Regions from separate parts of the Homo sapiens genome. Here region 2 is linked to region 1. The links come from fine-mapping of genetic effects on gene expression. A gene starts in region 1. The other region holds a variant in brackets. All regions are shown on one strand. Distances are between the middles of the regions.

Region 1 (4,385 bases):
AGGCATATCCAATGGCCTTCTGGATACCTCCACTTGGATGTTCCATTGGCACCCCAAGCTCACCGTGCCCAGAACTGACCCTCTCCTAAAAACCCCTGCTTCCTCTCCTTCCTGTTTGCCCAAACCAGGAATCTAGAAGTCATCCTTCATTTCCCTTACTTCCCCCACACCCAATTAGTAACCAAGTCCATTTTTTTCTAGCTATAAGTGTCTAAGGAATTCATCCTGCCCTTTCCATTTCAGCTGCCACTCCATGCTTTGTGCCACCATAATCCTTCCCCACTACTGAAACAACCTCCTAACTGGTCTCCCTCCTTCTCCCAATCCTCAATCCAGTTCCTGCACTAATGTTTCTTTTTTTTTGAGACAGAGTCGCGCTCTGTCACCCAGGCTGGAGTGCAGTGGAGCAATCTCGGCTCACTGCCACCTCTACCTCCCAGGTTCAAGCCATTCTCCTGCCTCAGCCTCCCAAGTAGCTGGGATTACAGGTGTGCACCACCATGCCCGGCTAATTTTTGTATTTTTAGTAGAGATGGGGTTTCGCCATGTTGGCCAGGCTGGTCTCGAACTCCTGACCTGAAGTGATACGCCCGCCTCAGCCTCCCAAAGTGCTGGGATTACAGGGGTGAGACACCACACTGGGCTCTTTGTTTTGTTTTTTGAGACAGGGTCTCACTCTGTCACCCAGGCTGGAGTGCAGTGGCACAATCATGGCTTACTGCAGCTTTGACCTCCTGACTCAAGTGATCCTCCCACCTCAGCTTTCCAAGTAGCTGGGACTTCAGGCATGCGCTACCATGCCTGGCTAATTTTTAAAATTTTAATTTTGTAGAGATGAAGGTCTCACTATGTTGCCCAGGCTGGTCTTGAACTCCTTCAAGCCATTCTCCCGTCTTGGCCTTCCAAAGTGCTGGGATTACGAGTTTGAGCCACCGCGCCTGGCATGCAAAGAGTCTTTCCCCCTCCCTATCTCTAAAAGTCTTTCAAGGCCCAGCTCAAGAGCCAACCCCACTGCCATAAATGCCCCTTCTCTGATTCTGAGCTCCTCAAATCCTTACTCTTCTGTAGTATTTATCTCACACGCAGAATCAGAGTTGCTTCATGCATGGTTTCTCTCCCTCTCCCGTTAAGACATGGGAGAGGGAGGGCCAAAAGCTTGATTCTCACTAGGGCCTAAGGAACCTTATTTAGCCCACCCAGTCTCTGGCACATAGTATGTAAATATGCTGGCACATAGTATGTAAATATAGATAAATGCAAGAAAGTTGCACTCCCAGCTCCTCGGTGGGCCCTATCAACAGGGCATTCTCTAAAGTCATCAACTGAAGACTGCTTCCCATCCACCCATCCATCCATCCATCCATCCATCCATCCAGAATATGCCTCAACCCCACTGGGTGGAGGTTGGGTCGGCACGCGCCCCCTAGGCCGTTTTGTACGGTTTTATACCTCCAGCCCTCGCAGTTGCGGCTGGTAGAGGATGGCAGAGGTAGGTAGACGATGCAAGTCAAAGGGCACACTCTTCCGCCGCGTAGGATAGGACTCTGTTCGGACGAGTGACCCTGCCCATTCCCAGAATACAGCAACTCTTCAGCCGCCTCTCACCTACATGAGAGGGTGGGGACTCTTCCTGACCGGCGCCCCGGCTGACCAATACCTGATCCAGATCAAGCGAATTAGCCAATGGCTGCGGGTCAGTAATAGGGGCGGGGCATGGTTGCTAGGGCCGAGCTAGTGGGGTGAGGCGAGAGGCTCTGGAAGAGACTCGGTGGTTGCTAAGGCGGGAGGTCACAGAGCGCGGCGCAGGGATTGGGCCGTGTTGGGGGAGGTGTGTGGTGATTGGGCGGCGCCCAGGAGGCGCCCGGGTGAGGCACGGGTGCGCAAGCGGGAGTTCCGGCTGGAGACCCGTGCTCTGGGCCGGCGCCTTCACCATGGCCTCGGCAGAGCTGGACTACACCATCGAGATCCCGGATCAGCCCTGCTGGAGCCAGAGTATGGAATGAGGGTTGGGTCCAGGCGCGGGGAGGTGACCTCATGAACCTGTGGGTTGCGAGCGCAGCTGTAGCCCCGCCCCTCATGCGGCCCCGCCCTCCCTCGGGCCGCCCCCTCATAGGGTCTGGCAGGTCCTAGACTTAGAGAGGCTCAGAGAGCCCCGCCCCTCGTAAGTCCCGCCCCAGAGTGTTCCTCCCTGGCGAGCCCCGCCTCTGCCCGAGTCAGCTGCTCGCTTGGGACCTCTTTTTCTGTCTTTCCTGTCCGGGGTGCTCAGGTCCATGCCCTTTAATCACTTCTCATAGCTGAAGGCTGCCGAAAGCTGGATCCCTCCTGATTCCTTTGTTTGGGATTGGGCTTCCCACATCTAGCCTATCACTTATTATTTTCCCGAAGGCGTGGAGGGGGAGGCTCGCGGGGTCACCGATCCTCGCAGAAGCCCGGGACTCAGAACCCTTAGCCGTCCCTCTCCACTCTTCTCGGCAGTGGTTAACAGTGCAGTCTCTGCCGTCGGGTAGAACTCGACTGAAATCCTGACTCCTTCCTTTAGGAGCTGGATTACCTTTGGTAAGCTACCTTCTCTGAACTTCAGTTTCCTCCTCTGCAAAACCGGGATAAGGATAGTAACCTTCCTCATAGGGCTGTTGGGGCCATCTGGAGATTGTGTAAAGGGCCTGGCATGGAGTGAGTTCAGTAATTGGCATTTACGATCAGCATTGTTTCTCTCCTTACATTAAAGAAAGACATGTAGGATTCTCCACAAAATTAGGATTGACAGCAGGCCCGCATCCATGACAGTGTGAGTAGATCGGGGTCCAGAGAGTGGAAAGTTTGGTCTCTCTGGGAATTCTGGCAGAAGGGCCTTGAAGTATGATCAGCCTGAGGCCAGCGTGTCCCTCACTTGCATTAGTCCAGCATCGCCTTCACGCCTCCTGTCTCACTGCCTGCAGCCCAGCCTCTTAAACTGCTACCACAGTGATCTTTCTAATGCAAAGGTTTGATCTTATACTCTGCTCTCCATAAAACTTACCTCCTTAAGGAGAGCCTTCCCAGATCCCTCCCGTAGCATCTCATGTTCTTTGGTTGGAGTCTAGGAGAGGGCAGCCCTTAGACTCCCGCAGAACAGATGGCCCCAGACCAGCTGTTTTTCCCTAGAACTGGATCTGCTGGCTTAGCGCTTTTGGGTTTATAGATGTAAAAATACTTTGGACACGTTTTGGCGTCAGCAAGCCATGAAGTCAGTTAATATTATTTCCTTTGGAGAGTCTTCGGCTGCAAAGGGTTGGAGCTGCCTTCTGCACGGCCAGGAGGGCAGCCTCGTGGTCCTGGTTCACATTTCAGCTCCATGTCTTACAAGTTATATGTCTTTGGCAAGCTATTGAACCTCCCTGAGCCTGAGATTCCTCCACTGTGAAATGGGAAGAGTACTAGTGCCTACCTCCTCGTGGGATTGCGAGGGTTACGAGGTAGCGTTTGGATGTGTGTCCCTGGCACAGTGCAGGTGCTGCCATTGCATTGCTCCCCTGTGGTTCCCCCTCAGCCCCCCTTTCTTTTTTTTTTTTTAAGAGATGGAGTCTCCCCTGTCGCCCAGGCCGGAGTGCAGTGGCGGATCCCATGGCTCCCTTTGCTGCTCCAGGAGGCTGGGTCTTAGAATTGGAAGAAATCTCAGAGACTGTTTTGTCCTGCCTCCCTCTGTTGGCATGAGTGCATTCCATTGCTAGCAGACCCTTCCCTGGGGCGATGCTTCTGCCCAAACATTCTAGCCTGTTGGAGGCAGCTGGGATTGTTAGAAAGCACTTCCCTTTCTTGAGCCACAATAGGCCTTCCTGTAATTTCCGCTCTCAGTTCAGTATTTGCTGTGTCCTGGCTGTGGGATCGTTGTTGGCCACTCAGAAGTGACTCACACGCCCAAGGAGCTGAGGTTTTGGGGAGGGGAGTGAATTTATAAGCAGGTGGTTTCAAAATGGTGTGCTAACTGCAGGGCTAGAGCATTGTGGTGGGAACGATACAGAGCAAGGAATCTCTCTTCCTCTGTTCAAGAGGACAGCTTCGTGCCTTCACATTTCCTCCAAGGGAAACACCTCCACGGCTTTCAGTTGTTTCTCCTCCTTATTGCTGCTCCTGACTGGCTTTAATTCATTGCCCTTCCCTCTCACAGTCCATGCTCCAGAGGAGAGCTAGAGGTTGTCAAACCCCTCAGAAGGAGATCACGACGCTGTGGTCCCCTGAATCCATTTGCTTCCTATCTGCAGAGCTTCCCTCCAGGCCAACATGGCCTGATAGAGTGACAGTCTTTTGGAGCCCCAGAGATTGTCTGTCTTTTGCAATTACTGTTTAATGGTGGAGAAGTGTATAGGACATTCATATTTAGTTTCTGAAATTACTTTTTAAAAACT
Region 2 (4,385 bases), 150 kb after region 1:
AAGAGCGGCTTTGAAGAAAGAAGAGGTGATCAGAATGTCAGTGAAGAAGTGGGATAGAGCTCATTGAGTGAATGGGCTGACTGAATGGGAGGTGGGGAAGTGGAGGCAATGTGAGTGAGATGTCTTTTGAACAAGTTTATCAGTAAAGGGAAAGAGGAAGAGGGGAGAGTAATGTGCTTGGAAGTTAAGATTAAAAGAAGATTTAAAGGGGAGATTTGAGGGTGTGTGAAGGCAGAGAGAAAGGCATTGGTAGGAAGAGGGATATTTAAAATGTGAGAGAAGAGATGGTGGTGCCAGATTGAAGGAGGAGGAGTGATGGGCCCAGGTGGAAGGATGAGTACTGAGTTAGGACACAAGTACTGGATAGTACTGAGTTAGGACAAAAGTGCTGAGTAGTACTGAGTCAGGACACAAGTACTGAGTAGTACTGAGTTAGGGGACAATTCAGTGAAGATGGCCTCCAGGGTGAGGCCAAGGTTAGGGAGGGAGAAAAGTTGTGGCTGTTTGGCCTTTATTCTCTCTGAAAAGCAGGAAATGAAGTCATCTACAGAGAATGAGGTAAACAGAGGCAGTGAAGAGAAATATTTTGAGAGAGGGAAGGGTTTACAACAACTGCTGTGGGAAATGGGAAGTCATTCTGGGACAAGTACGCAGACTGTTGAGACTTAGTCAGGGTCTGCTAGTGGTGACACCAGTTGAAATGGTTATGCGCTTTTCTCCCCGGAGCATCACAGGCCGGAAATAGAGGAGAAAGTAAATGCTTTCATGGATTTGGGATTTGAGGTAGGCAAACAGGTGGGACAGAAAGGCAAAAGGGTGAGGAAATGGCACGAAGAAATTCTTTAAAGATGTTGATCAAAGGGTCAAGGTCGGGCAGGAAAGAAAGTGAAGCTAGGAGGGGAATGGTGGGCTTGTTAAATTAGGAATGGTCCAGGGACTGAAGGTCTAACGGAGGTCAAAAACAGATTCAGTGGGAGTGAGGAAGGAGAACGGACATAAGGACAGCAGACGCAGCTTACAAAATGGGATTCAGAGTTCATTATTTTTGAGACGAAGAAATTGTGGGAGATGGTCAGACTGAGGGCGGGGCTGTGTTTCCATGGAATCTGCTGTAGGAGTGCAGGATGCTGCAGCAGAGGATCCCAGGATGTGGACAGTCCATGTGGGTGCTGAAATTCACAGGAGGAACGCAGAATAGGGGTGAGCAGGGAGATACTGAGTGCCAACGTTCCTGCTGAATAGAGGGGAGATGTCATCAGCAGATGACAGTGACAAGTAAGTAGAGAGGATCGAATGGCCTCAAAAGAGCAGGGATGTTTGTATGAGGGTGAAGGAACACATGTGGACAGTGGTATCAGCAAAAGTCACTTGCTACAGTAGTAGGGGGGTAAACAGGCACCTGGCACAGTTAGGCAGACCAAAGCGGGGCAGCAGTTTCAAGGTTCTGTTATTTTTTGTGTGTGTTTGTTGGTTGGTTCATTCAACCATTCATTCAAAAAGGATTTGATGAGATGCGTCTGCTGAGCCCTGAGCGCTGTGCTAGGCGTGCAGGACGCTGCCTCTTCCACAGGAATGCACACCAGCCAGCAGCCTTTCCCCGTTTTGCCAAAGGTGGCCCCCCTCTCGCTCAGCAAGCCCCCCACACCAAAGTCCTGGCACCAAAGCCAGGCAGGCCCTGACACGGCTGGTGACCAGTAGGGGATCTTCTTGTTACAGCTTTTTCCCCAGAGATAAATAGGCCACAGTAAAAAAGATTGCTACATCCTTTCAATAAAGA[T/C]TTTTTTTCTTTTCCAGACAGCTTGAGAAATGTTTTAAAAGCTTCTCACATTTCCAGTGAAACCCACAGAGAAGAATTTTGCTTGTTATCAGCCCTGGAAGCCTCTGATAGACGGGTGACATTTTTTTTCTTTTTCTTTCTCTTTTTCTCTTTTCCTTTTTTTCACCAGCTGAAGAGAGAGTCACAGTGTGTTTTATAACTGGCTCTCTGCATTTCAAAAGCTCAACGAGAGCTCTCTGCTAACCCCGATAAGCCTTGGGCTCTTAGCGTCTTAAATACCTCTGACAAGCTATACATTACAGCGCTAATAATTTGCCAAATTTGCGCCCATAATATGATATCTGTAAAACGTCAAGGGCAGTAATGCGATTAGCGGTCTCAAATGAAATATCGAACATTCAGCGTTTAGGTCCTGAATAGGGGGAGAAAGGAAAGGAAATCAATTTCAAAAGCAGGAGGGAAAAAGGCGATAAGCGTGTAATAAAAATAGAGAGAGACAGAGGAGAGATGCGGAGGAAGAGACGGGCAGAGCAAGACGCAGGGAGAGATAGACCAGCCTGCATTCGTGTTTGAGGCAGGTAAGAGATGTAAAAAACTTTTACAAAGCAGTTCCAACACGAAGCTGGGAAATAACATTTGGTCACCACAGCAACCGGGTTTGGGTGGAAGGAGGGAGGTGGGGGCTGGGAGTTGAGGAAGGGGTTGGCCAAGCCTAGGGACCGGCCTTTCACTCTCTGCCCCCAACAGCCTGCTTCCATAAAACACAGGAAGTTGAATTACAAGGAGTCTGAGGGTGGGCTCTCACCCTGCCCCCACCTACCCGAGGTGGGAGAGTCGTAATGGACTAATTATCTGGCCAGCAGAGGCGGTGGCGGCGGCAGTTCGCAGGAGAGAGGGCCCGGGCTGTCACATACCAGGCTCTAGACTAAATAACAACATCTCACACCTGCAGCTTTACGAGCCCTTGCTGAGAGGAGCCAGTGCAAGCCCTCCCCTCCCTTTGCCCCCCTCCAGCATCCCCCCATTCACATTTGGGCCCCCACTCTAGCCAGGCTGCTGCTGGGGCACCAGAGTGGCAGGGGGAGTCTCCCCCTTGCTGAAGCTAGGACCCATCGCTCAATCCTTACAACTTGCAGGTATCTCGACTCACAATGCCGCTGCTCTTGGGTCCCCCAGCTAATTCCCCAGGGACCTGAGCAAGGCAAGCGGACTATGCCATTAAAATACCCCATGCCAGAGGTCACTGGCGAGCAGGTTTGTCTGCACCTGCAGCTATGTCTCAGGCTCGGGATGGACGAGGGGATGGGGCTGCGCTGGATGCTGGATTGTGAGGGCAGAAATGACCAATGGATCCTCTTGGGCCCTGGGGGATAGCAGAGGCGGGAGCCCTCTGAGCTGCCTCAGCACATTTCTCTGCTTTCTCCTTCCATACCTCTCCCTAACACCATGCGAAGCAGGTTCTTTCAAAGCATGGTGTTCCTGCTCCTTCTGCACCACTTGGTCTTGGACCTGACCCCATAACCATTAGCCTCATTTTGTAAAGAGATGAGGTTTTGGCAGAGCTGTGTCAAGAGAAGAACGCAAACAATGACAGATGCAGGAGCCTGTGCCTTAGCAAGGGGATGGCATTCAGGAAGCGCGGGACCAAGTCCTATCCCCACTCTAAATGTCCAAGGCCTCTAGTCCCACTGTCTCCCCACAGCTGGAGGCTCCCAACTAGGGTTCAGGCCAGCTCACCTAGGCAAAGAGGAGGTGAAAGGTGCTGGCTGGCCTGGGGTGGGAGGAGAGCAAACAGGCTGCCTGGGGCCTGCCCAGACCCTTCCCCGGGGCAGCCTGGAATGGCCATTACAGGGCCACTTCTTGCGGCACCACGAGCCATTAAAGCAGGAGTGCTCGGGGAGCCATCAGCCCAGTGCAGATGACTTCCCCAGATGTGGCAGTGGGCAGGATGTGGAAGCCCCCAGCCCCAACTCTACAGACAAAACATTCCCACACTCACCATCCTCGGAAACCCCACAGCCCAGAGCCCCTCTTACAGATGCTTTCTAGACCATTTAGCAGGAGGCAGTGTTTATTTTTGAACATATGTTCTTCCCCATCTCTCGCCTTCCTTCTCCCTTACTAGTCCTTCCAGACCCAAAGCTGCTCTCTGGATGGGCTGCTGTTGGTTGTGACTGCCAAGCTCCAAGGCCAGTGTGGGTAGCACGCTTTGTTTTGGCTTTGTGAGTGCTTAAGCATATGCATGCATGCACACACAGTCCTACTTGCTCTAACTACCATTAGTGGAATGTATGTACCACACCAGCTCCAGGAGGGCAGGGCCTCAGAGGTTATCTAAGTTTGTGAGCAAATTATAAACTAAGATCGAGTTTCCCTACTTTCCAAAATGGGTATACTAGTCAAAGATGGTCCCCGGGCATTGCATTCCTTTTGGGAAGGTGACATCAAGCACAGAAGGTCCCCCCGCCCCCCCAGGAGGGATGTTTCTACCTGAAGCTCAGATTGGTCTCTACTTGGTTCTCTCTGTCCATGCATAGAGCCCAGCCCAGTGCTGTGCTCAACTATTGTCCACCCACCTCAATTAAGGTCTCTCTTTTCTTCAATAAAA

Direction of the effects. Alleles are on the strand shown, and positions count from the first base shown. SD is a standard deviation of normalised expression in the study named.
As copies of C replace T in region 2, the expression in prefrontal cortex of the gene that starts at base 1,609 in region 1 goes up (large effect, 1.3 SD a copy in GTEx).

The links. PIP is the estimated chance that this variant, and not a neighbour inherited with it, causes the effect.
Region 2: its variant is the best candidate, but not a certain one, in a credible set for the expression of ARMH1 in prefrontal cortex (GTEx, PIP 0.80).

Annotation. Positions count from the first base shown.
Region 1 is chr1:44,671,938-44,676,322 of GRCh38, reverse strand. ARMH1 (armadillo like helical domain containing 1) reads right to left here and starts at 1,609. Exons shown (of 12, transcript NM_001145636.2): 1 at 1,450-1,609. It overlaps TMEM53 (transmembrane protein 53), which reads left to right and starts at 1,842. Exons shown (of 3, transcript NM_024587.4): 1 at 1,842-1,992. The coding sequence starts at 1,932. RefSeq lists silencers at 1,670-1,719, 1,790-1,839, 1,990-2,129 and an enhancer at 1,897-2,398.
Region 2 is chr1:44,522,519-44,526,903 of GRCh38, reverse strand. The region is part of intron 2 of RNF220 (ring finger protein 220); the gene reads right to left. Among named protein-coding and RNA genes, the nearest start is that of MIR5584, 21 kb to the left of the region's middle. RefSeq lists enhancers at 1,427-2,752, 2,402-3,258, 3,259-4,116. The variant T/C (reference allele first, on the strand shown) is at 1,778.